Linked DNA regions of Homo sapiens. The protein of the gene in region 1 interacts with the protein of each later gene in a pairwise test. Each region holds a gene or a part of one and is shown on either strand. Other genes may lie near its edges.

What was found.
Region 2: the proteins of TOPBP1 (region 1) and TOP2B interact in a two-hybrid assay, tested with the Homo sapiens proteins (one study listed by BioGRID).
Region 3: the proteins of TOPBP1 (region 1) and CIP2A interact in a two-hybrid assay, tested with the Homo sapiens proteins (2 studies listed by BioGRID).
Region 4: the proteins of TOPBP1 (region 1) and TEX11 interact in a two-hybrid assay, tested with the Homo sapiens proteins (one large-scale study listed by BioGRID).

What each region holds. Positions count from the first base shown.
Region 1 is NC_000003.12:133,637,916-133,641,542, forward strand, and holds part of TOPBP1 (DNA topoisomerase 2-binding protein 1), read right to left. Parts: intron 2,256-3,627; coding exon 2,044-2,255; intron 248-2,043; coding exon 1-247. UniProt on the Homo sapiens protein: Scaffold protein that acts as a key protein-protein adapter in DNA replication and DNA repair. Composed of multiple BRCT domains, which specifically recognize and bind phosphorylated proteins, bringing proteins together into functional combinations.
Region 2 is NC_000003.12:25,602,402-25,606,028, forward strand, and holds part of TOP2B (DNA topoisomerase 2-beta), read right to left. Parts: intron 2,470-3,627; coding exon 2,359-2,469; intron 1-2,358. UniProt on the Homo sapiens protein: Key decatenating enzyme that alters DNA topology by binding to two double-stranded DNA molecules, generating a double-stranded break in one of the strands, passing the intact strand through the broken strand, and religating the broken strand.
Region 3 is NC_000003.12:108,568,933-108,572,559, forward strand, and holds part of CIP2A (protein CIP2A), read right to left. Parts: intron 676-3,627; coding exon 457-675; intron 1-456.
Region 4 is NC_000023.11:70,552,206-70,555,832, forward strand, and holds part of TEX11 (testis-expressed protein 11), read right to left. Parts: intron 2,596-3,627; coding exon 2,446-2,595; intron 1,210-2,445; coding exon 1,101-1,209; intron 42-1,100; coding exon 1-41. UniProt on the Homo sapiens protein: Regulator of crossing-over during meiosis. Involved in initiation and/or maintenance of chromosome synapsis and formation of crossovers.

The DNA of each region.
Region 1 (3,627 bases):
AGGAATTTTGATGGTGTATCCAGGTGTAACGAGGGCTCCTTCTGAAGTGGTTGTCCTACTGCTGGGGAGGCTGCGACCTGTCTGGCATGTTGTGAGACCACAGCACGGAAAGCTTTACTCTGAAAGCGGTTCATATCTAAAGGTGTAACGACGGTTTTTCTGTGAGTTTGCAGGCGTGTGCCAGGATGCTCTGCAGTATCTGAATTTAGATTGATTCCATTTGTTATTTCTGTTTCCAAACTTCGTTCTAGAGATTTAAAATGAAAAGAAACAAATATGAGCCACTAATGCCCACTTTTTCCCGGTACACAAGAAGTAATATTTTATACTGTTTTCTTTCCTTTCTTTCTTGCATAACTCCTGGGCTCAAGAGATCCATCTACCTCGGCATCCTAATCTGTTAGTTTTCATGTCAATTCTCAGGTACACTTTAAATCACAAAATTATATACCTACTTTCCAAGAAACAAACCAGATTATGCATTAAATATATGTTGAGTTAGACAAGCACATTAACTGAAAAAATAATAATAGATTTCCTGTTTCATCTTGCTATGTCTCAATAAGCCTATTTGCCAAAAATTGTTATCAGTGAATGTCTTTCTAGTCAATGACAGAGTAAAAAGAAAAATCTCAATTACAGGTACTCAGAGTTAACTACAGTCTAGTTTTGGAAAGTCCTTAATCAAATTTTAATATGACCTGAACATCACTTAGCCTCAGTCATAAAATTACCAGTCTGTCTGGCAAAATAAGTAATGACTCTGAGAGGTATTCCCAAGCTGCTGATATGTCCCTGAAGTTTGCCCATGGATGCTATTATCTTACAAGAGAGGGTACTGTATTCTTCCACCTATGCCTTCCACCTTTTTTCAACATTTAACAAAAAACCTTATTAGATAGCTACTCCATGCCAGGCCTAGTGTTAGACATGGGAAATACAGAATTCACAAGACATGCATGTTCACTGCCTTTCTGGAACTTTAAATTTAGCAGGAAGACACAAAATAAACAACCATTATAACACTGAGGTAAGAGATAAAAGGGATGATACAGAGTGTCATGGTGAAACAAAAAACATTATACCAAGACAAAGGCCATCCTTGGTGAGTCAAGAATGCTTCCCAAGACAGTGTGGCGATTCCTCAAAGATCTAGAACTAGAAATACCATTTGACCCAGCGATCCCATTACTGGGTATATACCCAAAGGATTACAAATCATGCTACTATAAAGACACATGTACACATATGTTTATTGCAGCACTATTCACAATAGCAAAGACTTGGAACCAACCCAAATGTCTATCAATGATAGACTGGATTAAGAAAATGTGGCACATATACACCATGGAATACTATGCAGCCAGAAAAAAGGATGAATTCATGTCCTTTGTCGGGACATGGATGAAGCTGGAAACCATCATTCTGAGGAAACTATCACAAGGACAGAAAACCAAACACCGCATGTTCTCACTCATAGATGGGAATTGAACAGACACAGGGCAGGGAACATCACACACCGGGGCCTGTCGTAGGATGGGGGGATGGGGGAGGGATAGTATTAGGAGAAATACCTAATGTAAATGACGAATTAATGGGTGCAGCAAACCAACATGACACATGTATACATATGTAACAAACCCGCATATTGTGCACATGTACCCCAGAACTTAAAGTGTAATAATAATTAAAAAGAAAAAATGAAAGGCTTCCCAGGGAAAGTGGTATCTTAGCTGAGAACTGAAAGATAAGCAGGAAGAGCAGGCAACTGTGAGGTGGTCTACAGGAAACATGCAGAAGCCCAAAGATAAGAGGAGAGATAGCATGTTAATTATATAGTGTGTTACTATGAGCCATAGAAAGAATCAACAGTAAATAGGAGCCAAGCTTACATCTGTAGACTTCGAACACTGAGACCCTCACTGCACCCAATGTGAAAAGCAAAAATCAATGACCCTTCCTAAACACAAGCATTGGCACATTTATATCCCAGAAACCATCTAGTTGTAAATATATATAAAAGAACAGAATAAAAGTATTAACCTTCTTTAGTTGAATTTTCAATCAGAAAATGGCTTTCGTCTGCTCTCTTTCCCGTTCTAGCAGTCTCCAACAGCCAAGCTATAGTAACGGCAGGTAAATTCCACTTCTTTGCAGCTTCATATTTAGAGCCACCACGTTCTTTCAGTATAAGATGAGTACTGGCAAACATGCCTTTCTTTGCATTGGATTTGCGAACAAAGTATTCTTGAACACTGAAATTTATGTTTAAAGAAGTGGAAATGGTCACATATACAATTAACCCGCAAAACTAACAAAATTTCCAACACAACAGTGTGGTTAGAGATCATGTAAGTATAAAAAAAAATACTGATTAAAAGTTGGTTTACTCTATCTGAAATTAAGCTAATCCCCTTACAAATGCTTACTCTAGGGTAAAAATGTATTGCTGTAACAAACTTTTTATAAAAACATAATTAGACATGCAAAGAACAGACAGCAAAAATCCTTTTGAGACAGGGTCTTGCTATGTTGTCCAGACTGGAGTGCAGTGGCACAATCACAGCTCACTGCAACCTCCGCCTCCCAGGCTCAAGCCATCCTCCCACCTCAGCCTCCCCAGTACCTAAGACTACAGGTGTACACCACCACACCTGGCTAATTTTTGTATTTTTTGTAGAGATGGGGTTTCACAATGTTGCCTAGCCTGGTCTCGAACTCCTGAGCTCAAGTGATCCTCCTGCCTCAGCCTCCTAAAGTTGGGATTACAGGCGTGAACCACCTCACACAGCCAAAATTACCTCCTTAATTAGTTATCACCCCCACACCTTGTCCTTTCCTCCCAAAAGAAGGCACAGAAAAAATGACAGGAGCAAAGTGTATAAATAACATTATTATTATTTTTTAACCTACTACAACTTTCCAAAGCATTTCTACATATTATCTCATTTGATCCTCTCAATATTTAAGTATAGACATGGGAAAAAATACAGAGAAATTAAGTGCCTCAAGATCATAGGATATTAAACACAGAGAATACGGGGCAGAAAAAGAAGTCTACGACTTGAGATTGAACAGAATTCCGTGATTTCTTTTATGACTTCTGGGTTTTATGTTCTAGTTCCCAACTTTTCAGATTTTTAAATTTCCCATGTTTCCTAGCACTTTTTTTTTCTATGTTTTGTGTTTATCTTAGTACTTTTATAATTTCATTTTTTACATTTAACCCACCAATCCATTCAGTACTTATTTAGATATGAGATACTGCTCCAACTTTAATGAATCCTATTTATTGAATAAGCCATGTCTTCCTTATATATATTTGAAATGTCACTTGTATCGTAAATTCCTTTTTACATTTGGGTCTCCTGCTACATTTGCTGTCCATTAATTAAACTTTCTGCTACACGTAACCACACTGTTATTTAGTGAAGTTTCACAAAATATATATTTGTTTGTTTGTTTTCTGAGACAGGGTCTTGCTCTGTCCTCCAGGCTAGAGTACAGTGGCGCCACTGTGACTCACTGCAGCCTTGACCTCCCAGGCTCAAACAATCCTCCCACCTCAGCCTCCCAAATAACTGAGACTACAGATTTATGCTACATTGCCTGGCTCATTTTTAAAAT
Region 2 (3,627 bases), about 110 Mb from region 1:
AAAAAAAAGAAAAAGAAAAAAAAAAAACTGATAAATCACTTTTTGTAATTAAGAAAACCTAATTTGGAAGAAAATATATTAACTGTAGACTTTGTTTAAAAAAAAAAAAAAACCTACACTGATTCTATGGAAAATGTATTCCAGTCGCAATTTGAGACACTACAAATAAGGCCCCTCGTTAGCCAAGAGCAGGAGGAGCCCTAGGAAAGTGGCACCCAGATTGTGTGGCTTTTCCCACCTGAGTCTTCATGACTATATCTACCACAAGAACCACAGGGCAGCTCCTAGCAGGGAGTATAAACTTAGCCAGGTGTTCTAGGAACCACTTTTTTTCCTTGGCTTGGAGTTACATGGCACTTTCAATTCTACCAGGCAAACAGGTCAGATATCTGAGTACTATAGCTGCCTTTCTGCTGTAAACTATTGGAACTACAGAATTTAACTTGTGTAACATACGCAATTTGGAGTTAACATAGACAATCCCACAGAGGGATATGATGCATCCTCTTCTTGAAATGATATTTTATTGGAATTATATTTCGTAAGGGAGGCTAAAGGAAAGCTGAGGACTTGCTGGGGTCCCTGAAATCACACCACACAGGCAGTCTACCTATTCAACTTAGACAAGGCCAGTTCAGCTACTGAAGAAGGAAGCAAGTAGGATAGGTACCATGATAATCTAGCTTTTTGGTCATGCTAAACTCATTAGGTTAAATATGGGTGAACAGTTTGATGAAGGAAACGGGGTATGTTTCAGGAAGTAATACGGCTCCCAAGTTTTCAGGGTGTTTATAAGATGCTCATATGAAGATTATTTTTTAAAGGTGCTTTTTGATTGTTCTGTTGTTGTTATTTGAGATGGAGTCTCACTCTACCGTCCAGGCTGGAGTGCAGTGGTGCCATCTCAGCTCACTGCAACCTCTGCCTCCCAAGTTCAAGCGATTCTTGTGCCTCAGCTTCCTGAGTAGCTGGGACTACAGGCATGCATACGCCACCACACCAGGCTAATTTTTGTATTTTTAGTAGAGATGGGGTTTTGCCATGTTGGCCAGGCTGGTCTTAAACTCTTGACCTCAAGCAATCTGCCTGCCTCGACCTCCCAGAGTTCTGGGATTACAGGTGTGAGCCACTGCGCCCAGCCTGATTGTTTTTTTAAAAAAGAGAAATTATAGGGTCCATCTCAATGTGGGTTCCCCAGATTTGGGCCAATCTGCCTAATCCTAGAGTATGGATTCAAGTATAAGTATTTATTTGAGAGATAAAGGAGGGGGAGACAAAAATGAGACAATGAAGAGAAGGCAGCCAGTAATAGGTAAGTTACCAAGCCAATCATCACTCTAGGAGCTTAATTCCATAAGAAATTTTTGAGTCCCAGTGTGAAACACACATCCCACAGTTGGCTCACATGAGAGGCAAGGACACTGAGATATTTATAGACCAACTTTCCTCAATCTGCTAGTTAAAGGCAGCTGGGAGCAGGGGGGTGTTAATATTCCAGCACAGTGGCAAAGAGGAAGTCCTCAGGCAACGAAAGGCAGATATTGCCCAATATGCACTAAGTGGTAAGGGACATGGGTAGGTCACCCAGTGTGTTGGCTACAGAGACTCTTGTAAATAACCAGTTTCTCAATATGGTTCTACTGCATTCAGAATAAGCAGGACTTTTCAAAATTGTTGTTCTGCTACATTCAATACATGTGTCTGTAATGATGTTGTCTGTTGTGAATTTTTAAAATCCTTGAGGGAACAATCCATATTATTTACTTGCTGTCTTAAATAGCACACATCTCAATTAGATTTGTGGGGTTTTTTTTAAGTGTCATCCTTCAAACACAAAGCACAAATACTGACCTCTTTCAAAAAGACCACGGTACATATATCTTGGTACTAGTAAGAGATTCATTAATCAACTCAAAGTGTTTTGTGGCCAATCTAAGGCTGTGAAAAAGAGAGAAGCTGCATGACTCACATAGAAAAAGAGGACCTCAACTGAGCTGACCAATCCCTCCACATAAGGAGTTGAGTCATGATCAACATAGATAACAGAAGCAAGCTACTAGCAAGACAAAATTTTAATCTCCATTACAACCTAACCACAAGGGAGCTTTTGTAGAAAGCTATCTTTAGATAGTAATGCACGGGATTATTTTATAATTACAACAGCTTTAAAATTAAGTCTTACAGAAATTTTATTAACGCCCTCAGATGGCTAGAAAACGAGAGGTTCTCCTTATAAGCACTTATACTTCTTAATTGTTTTATGATAAAAAAATGCAAATAGTTTCAAATTAAATTACATTTCCTTTTACATTAACTATCTCTATCCAATGCTTAACTCAATCAAATATAAGTACATACCCTTTTTAGCAGCTACCGTTTTACTTGGAACTTTATCTGTCTGTTTCAGACCAAATGATGGTGAAAAAACAGAAGCAGAATCTTCTTCATTACTGTCAAATTTAGCTGAATCTAAAAATTGCAAAGCCTTCTTTTAGTAAAGAGATGTTATAAAGATCTCTCAGTAAACTTTGACTCTTTTAACTGATGACTTCCCTTTAGCTAGACAATTGATCTTATGTTACTATTTTGTGACCAAATAATCCACAATATACAAACAGCTAAAAATAAAATGTATCAGTTATACACCAAAAATGTTAACTATGTGGTGAAATAACACAGAAGTGCATAAAGTAGTAAAAATTAAAAGTCCCAAATGCTAAATATTTAAAACATAACTGACCAATTCAAAAATACATGCTGCCAATTTATTTTAAAATGAGATATGAAAATGTCCCACTGTATTATTTTAGTACCTACACAAATAATACTATTAACCATTTCAGGAATATCAGTAATAATGTTTAAATCTAAAAGAATAGTAAGTATTCCTATTTTTAAATAAATTTTTGAAGACTAATTTAAAAGGCAGACAGGCTTACCTTCAGTTTACTCTTGCACTCAAATTAGTGTAATGCGTTCTTCCCTAACACCATAGCACAAACTTTTAAAATAGCTACTTGGATGTAAATAAATATGTTTACACAACTCTTTTGACACACTGTCAAAAATGAGTACGTATACATATAGAATATGTACCAAATATGTCTAAATGTATAGATGTGTGTATTAAAAAATGATAGTGAATCAATTAAGTGACCTTAAAAATTCCATACACAAAAAAAATACGAAACAAGAAGTATACACACTGATTAAATTTGTTCTTATGACGGTTTTAATCTCTCAGGTAACAACCAATCTGCAATCACACTGGTGCCCTTACAGATTTAGAAAACTGTCGTATATACATTCACATTGCCATGAAAATCAAATTTCAAGCTTTCAAAATTTCATTATTTCTTTTCTCTCATTAAAACACTACACATACACTCACACCCATAAACACAGATAAGCATTTGCCTGTCCACCTAAATGCTTCCATAATGCCTATTTTGACCAATTAGTTAGGAATCACCTCAGAAAAAGTAAAGAAGCCTTATTATCTTGAGCAAAATATAAAAAGGAAGTTTTCTACTCATTAAAAATTCTGAAGTTAAATCATGACCTAACGATTTATTTACTGTTTTCTCTCCACCACTAAAAGCAATAATACAATAACCAATGAAAAGA
Region 3 (3,627 bases), about 25 Mb from region 1:
GATCTACCAGAATGTGGAGTTTTGTCTGTATCTTAAGTGCCTAGCACATTATCTGGCATGCTCTACTCCATTTCACTGACTGAATCCAATATGCCTCTATTGTCCATTCAATGGCCTACTAAACTTGGTAGATGGCATCTATTGCAATGGAGAGACAATGTAACTATCCCCAGTAGTCAGGCAACAAATTATATAAATCTTTTTAATATCTTTACTTATTACACTGAAATGAGCACTATATATATATATACATACACACTACTCAGTGAAAAAAAAGGAAAACACTAATATATATGACTGGCAGAAAAAAACCTAGCGAGTCTAGTATGACTGTTAGTAATTGAGATGTTTTCCTCAAGTGTATGAACTGTAAGTTTACAAAGAATGTTTTTGAAGACAAATTGTTAACTGAGAGTCACAAAAGTAGAAAAGTCAATCTGTCAGTCATCCTATTACCTCAAATATTTCCTTGAACAACTCCAATGCTAAAACAGAACAGTTTTCTGATCCGTCCAAAGGTTGGCTTAACCAGCGCAGTAGAGCCACAGTAGGTTCTAAACATTTAGTATGGCTTCCCAGAGTGGCGCTGCCAGGTGGAGACTGTTCAAACATCATCTGAGTGAGCATATGGCGCAGCTGAGTCACTGAACAGAAGGCAAGAAGTAATTCTAAAACCTGTGCAATATAAAGTGTTCATTAAACATCAATTTCACAGAACTTTAATATACAAAGCAAGTGTATGATGAAGCTGAAAATGCTACATATTTTAAAGAAAATATTCTAAAACAAAACTTAAGTTTTTTCTTTCAATATTATTTTTCAAATGTGTGAATAGGTTCTAGAAGATTATAAAATAAACTTATTAATGGTGGTTACTCCTGATAAGCAGGACTGTGAGAACCTCAGAGGGAAGGTCAACTTCAGCCAACGTTAAACTCCTCCCACTCCTTCCATAGTACTTAAATTATTTTTAAACAGAAACCTGTTTTGTTTATAAATGACCAAAAAAACCCTAAAAAATAAAATTAGAATTAGTAATACTTGTTATAATCCTAAAATTCAATAACCGCTATAAAGGATACTGTAGCATAGAATATAAAACCTTCAGGATGGTTATTTCCACACTGTTTGCATACGGTTGGCATTATGACCCTTAGCTCTCCTACTGTACCCCATTTTTCCTCTACTTTATAAACTGGGCCTTATACCATAACATCCCCCATCAACCAGTTTATTAGATGTTAAGATAAATTCCACCTCATTTCACATACTACCAACTTATCACTAAAAAAAAAAAAATTTCTTAAGATCTCCTTGTCTCTCTATTTCCAACTTTTTAAAAGTCTGTTTCTTACAAATGATATATAATTGGGATTTGTGTTTTAATCAACTTGATAGTATCTGAATTTAAAAGAATCCAGTCCATTAGCATTTACTATAACAAATGATAATCTTTAATAAACTGTAGTACAGTCATGTGTCACTTAGTGATGCATATGTTGCTTAATGCATCATTAATTCCGTTGTGTGAACATCGTAAGAGTGTACTTACACAAACCTAGATGGTAGAGCCTACTACGTCCCTTTATTGCCCGTGGGCTACAAAACTGTACAGAATATTACTGTACTAAATACTGTAGGCAACTATAACACAATTGTAAGTACTTGTGTATCTAAACATAGAAAAATACAGTATAAAAGATCAAAAACGGTACACCTGTATAGGACACTTACCATAAACAAAACATGCAGGACTGGAAGTTGCTCTGGGTGAGTTAATGACTGAGTAGTGAGTGAATGTAAAGGCCTAGGACATTACTGTATATTGCTGTATATTTCATAAAGACTGTATGCTTAAGCTACACTATTTTTTAAAATTTCTCTAATAAATTAACCTTAGCTTAGCAGAACTTTTTAACTTTATAAACCTATCCATTTTTAAAGTTTTTGACTCTTTTGTAGTAAGAGAAACACACTGTACAGCTATACAAAAATACTTTATTTACATCTGTAGTCTATCAGTTTTTTCTATTTTTAAAATGTAGGCTTTTTCTTTTTAAACTTTTTTTGTTAAAAACAAAGACACAAACACAGACATTAGCCCAGGTCTACACAGGGCCAGGGTAATCAACACCACTTCCACCTCCACATGTTGTCCCACTGGAAGGTCTTCAGGGGCAGTAACACACAGGGAGCTGTCATCTCTAATAACAACAATACCTTCTTCTGGAATACCTCCTGAAAGACCTGCCTGGCTGTTTTACAGTTAACTTTTTTATAAGTAGAAGTACACTCTAAAATAACAAAGAATAAGTGGTAACACGTTTATCAAAATACTATGTACTGTATACAATCTTAATATGTGTTATAGTTTTATACAGCTGGCAGCTCAGTAGGTTTGTTTACACCAGCATCACCACAAACACATGTGATGCATTGCACCACCATGTTAGAATGGCCATAATGTCATAGGCAATAAGAAGTCTGTGTCTGTCATTGACTAAAATGTCATTATGTAATGCATGACTATATTTATTTTTGAATAGGTAATACATTCACATGGTTCAAAAGACAAACCCTGTAGGCAAGCAATGTTACCAATTGTTTGTGTATCTTACCATATGTCCGTTATAAACATAGAAGCAGATAGCTTTCCATGTACATTAGTTTTCTTTTAATGTACACATATAAAAGTAAAAAAACTAATTACTAGTGCAGAGCTAGATGACTTTCCCAAAATGAACATATTCCACTGTTAATGGCATTTGGGTTATCATTGTTAGCTATTAGGAGCAGTACTACATTTTGTACACATGTAAACAATTCTTTGGGATAAATACCTATAAGTGAGATTTCTGGGTCGTAGTTTATACATATGCCCAGTATTAATAGATACCAGTTTTCATAATTGGTTGTTCTGTAAGTACTAAATGAGAGTTAAAGTATGTTTGCTATTTTCCTTATTTTTCATTTTAATCAACTGGTGGGTGTCAGATGGTATGATACTACCATTTAAATCTGCATTTCCCTTAAGATTGATAAAGTGGTAAATCACTTCATGTTTATTGACCAATTCAACTTTTTTGCTCAAGTATCTGTTCGGCTCTGTGTTTTTTCGGATATATACATACAATGTAGAAAAATAATATATTTTGGATAAGAGTCCTTTGTTAGATATATGCATTGTAAATATCTATTCCCATTCTTTGACTTTTCATTCTTTTATTAGTGGTCTTTTCATAAATAGAAACTTAATTTTAATGTAGCCCAACTTATCGACTTTCTTACTGTATAGTTAGTGCTTTTGTTTCCTGTTTAAGAAAATCATTGTCTACCCCAAGGCCATGAAGATACTCTTTAGGTGTTTTTTCTAAAACGTTCCTTATTTTTACTCTTCACATTTAAATCTACAACCTGTCTTATACTGATTTTTGCATTTGGTATGAGGAAGGGGGTCAAATTTCAGTTTTTCCCCATATGTATATTCAATTGACCCAGCGTCATTTATTGAAATGACCATACTTTTAAGACTCTACTGTTGTCAATCTGAAGACCATATGCTGTGGGTTTGTTTCTGCTCCATTATGTTCCACTGGGCTGTCTATCATTATGACAAAATACTGCACT
Region 4 (3,627 bases), on another chromosome or scaffold:
CATCTGGCACTGAGAGGTTAACCAAGTTGTGCATACATTTGCTGAAAATCAAAAAGAGAAAACTCATCCCATAAGGAAAGAAATCATTGGCTTCATGGCTAAGATAAGTAAAACCTGGATCTCATCCCAGACTAACAGCTTCAAAACACTTCTGTTCTTCCCTCGGTTTTATCTGGCCTCCAACCTCAGAAGACAGATTTTTGAAGCTGTAAAACAGGTTGACCAATCCTTTCTTTTTTCATGCCTATGGTTGTCTTTCATTCTTTTTTTAGTTTCCTGCACGAAGGAGTTGTGGCTGTCTATTATATTTTATGAGCTGGTTCAATTTACAGGCATTTTAAAGCATCTCGGTACTTCCTCAAATGGGCAAGGGAACTGGGGTTTAAAGTGGAATGATTCCACAAGAACTGTCTTTCGTGCCTTAACACAGGAAGACTGTAATGATGTTTTCCAGACAAAAAAAGTCACACAACATCTATTTTTCCCCATGTCTGGACACAGAAAACAAAAAAGTCTCCAATAGATAATATTTTATACAGCACTTATCGGTGCTTAAAGTGCTTAGAAAAATAATGAGGCAAACATAGCAAGATGTTAACATTTGTTAAATCTGGGTGCTGCGTGCCTGTAATCCCAGCTACTCATGAAGCTGAGGTGGAGAATCATTTGAGCCCAGGAGTTTGAATCCAGCCTGGGCAACATCACGAGACCCCATCTCTAAAAATAAAACAAATAAATCTGGGTGGTGGATACGTTGGTGTTTGTTATATTAACCCCTGTGCTTTTCTGTACATTTGGAATATTATTTAGTGATGAAACAAAGAAAGAAAGGTACTTAGCAGTTTTATTATATACACAGATTCACACAAAGAAGCAACTTTTCCCCTTTTTTTTCTCCTTTGGGAAAACCAAGCTCCTTGACTTTGCTAAATAATTATTGGTCTGTAATACAACTCTCAGTATGGAGCTGTTCACAAGAATGCCCCCAGATCATCCCCATATCATCTTTAAAGTTGAGTCAATTAAGAACGATTGGTTACTTTTGAGGCATTGACTATAGTTCTTTTGGCTAGCAAAAAGGCTGGATTGTATTTACTAACCTGTATTGTGATATATCAATTGGTTCTTCCTTTTTGTAGAGCAATAAAGCCTTTTTCAAGGCCTTGAGAGCAATCAAAGGATAGTGTGCAGGCTTTTCCATTGCTATTACTAGAGTAAGAAAAGGAAAAAGGTTGTGAACATGATAATGTCACCCATCACAGTTTTCATCCCAGGCTACCACTTGCTTTCTCTAATGAAACTGGGCTGAAACAGATGAACAAAAATAAACAACAATGAATTTTATAAATGATAAATCTACAGTCGCTTTTGGAAATAGCTTCTACTTTCTGGGCAGAGTAGCATGGTGGGATTACCAGGTAACATCCTTTTTTCAGCAAACATCAACAGAAAACCTACTGTTTGTATGACCTTGCACACAGTCATACAGGTGAAGCAATAATCTTATGAATGACAGTCAAGGAAGGGCACACTAAGAAGGAAACAGAAAGCAGATCAGTAAAAGGGCACTAATTGAAACAGGTTTGTACTAAAATGTCCTATTTTTATCTGATACTAAAAATAGGAAACACTTGACAAGGGAGTATCAGAGGTAACTAACCCTAAGACTTCCAGATGCATTTAACAGATTTTTAGAATTGGAGTTCCATTATACAAGGAGCAGTGGTTGCTGTCACATGTCCATAAAGTATATATCATCTGCTCCATGGCTCTAGGAATTCTGTCTTGGCAAGACCAAGGAAAGGCAAATGTGACTCTTGTGCACTTGGAGCTACCTAATATTTTTATTAACCACACACATGCTCCTGAAGAGGGTGAGAGATAAAAAGGGAAGATAATTAGGCTGTTTCCTGCAGTGTACTCCCAAAAAGGCTCTATGCCCCCAAACCCACGTAAAGTTTGGCCTGAAATTTGAGAGTGGCAATTGTGTTAAAAAATATTACCAGTATTTCTCTGTACATTTCAACAAACAGCTAAGATTGCATCACTTTTGATTGTTGAAGCACTCAGTTATTTCTAGCTAGCCCAGAAAAACTTTCTAAAGTTTGAGCTCCCCCTGTTGTGTAGTTACATAATTAAATTCCACACAGAAAAAATTTGAGCACCTATTAGGAGCAATGAACTTCGCTAGGGTTTGTAAGTACAAATTAAGTAATTATTGTTTATGACCCTAAAGAGATTATAATCTCATAGAGTGAAGAAGATAAATGCACAAATGATCATAATACAAAATAGTCTAAGAATGGCATTAGAGAAGGAGAAACAAAGTGCTATGAGAAAAAATTATTTCCTACCTGGAGGTAAGAAAGAAGAGTAAAGAGAAGAAAAAAAGTCATACGATCTAAATGGGCACCAGCCTTACAAAAGCATAAATATAGCTCTTACTTGCAATTGTTTCAAAAGTTTTAGTTTCTAAATGAGGCAACTCCCACACTGATTCCAGGAAGCTTTCCAGTAATGGATCATTCAATTTGGCTCTAACTTCAAACTCGTACAGCAGAAGCAATTTCTCACATGAATCATTTGAGAAGGTCCCTAAGAAAGAGGCAAAAATGCAACATTCTTTGTGATTATATTATATTATTCTCTTTGGTTGTAATTTCACTAACTGGAGAGGTTTTCCTTCTAAGAAATATTAATTTTACTTACAATTTGAAGGTCATCTTCACTGCTGTAGACAGATTCTAAATTTTATTTTTGTTTTTTATTTGATTCTAACATTTTAAAATCTCTAAGCTAACCGCTACTTCCAACATTCTGTAGCGCATTCACTAGAACTACCTATATTTTCTCAAACAATTGCCACGATGCTTCTAAACAGCCTGAGAAAACCCTGCTGCTATTATTGATTCTAAATCAAATCCAGTGTTTACTTGCTTCTTGTGAACTTTCAACTGGGCTGGTGCTCACTCTAATGGCCGAGTTAACCAGAAGATACAGTGCTGTATAAACCAACAGTGACTTTATTTTAAGCAGAATAGAGGAGAGTTTCCAAACTGTTTCATTAGTCGACAGAATTTCTTGGGCATCAGCATAGAAAGAATTTCATGTCAGGTGTCATACACTAAACTATGTGAGACACTTTTCATTCATCCTTCTTGGTAGATTGAACATTGAAAAATGTTTTGAGGTATGACATATATACAACAAACTGAAAGAAGTGCTCTAACCTTAAACAGCTTGATGAGTTTTTACATGTGTTTAAACCCGTGTAATAACTACCTAGATTGTGATAACAAACACTTCCAACAATACAGAAGGTTCCTTTGTGCTCCTTTCCAGTCAATACCATCCAACCAAGGTAGCAACTATCTTTGCTTTTCTGCGTTTATGTTTTGCATCTATTTTCATGAGGAATCTTGGTCTGCAGTTTCTTATATTGTCTTTGTCTACTACTGGTATCAGGATAATAGTCTCATAAGATGAACTGGGAATTGGGCCCTCCTTTCAGGATGAGTTTGTATAGAGTTGGTATTACATCTTCTTTAAATGTTAGGTAGAATTCTTCAATGCAGTTTTCTTTGTTGGAAGATTTTAAACTATGAATTTAATTAATAGGCATAGGAG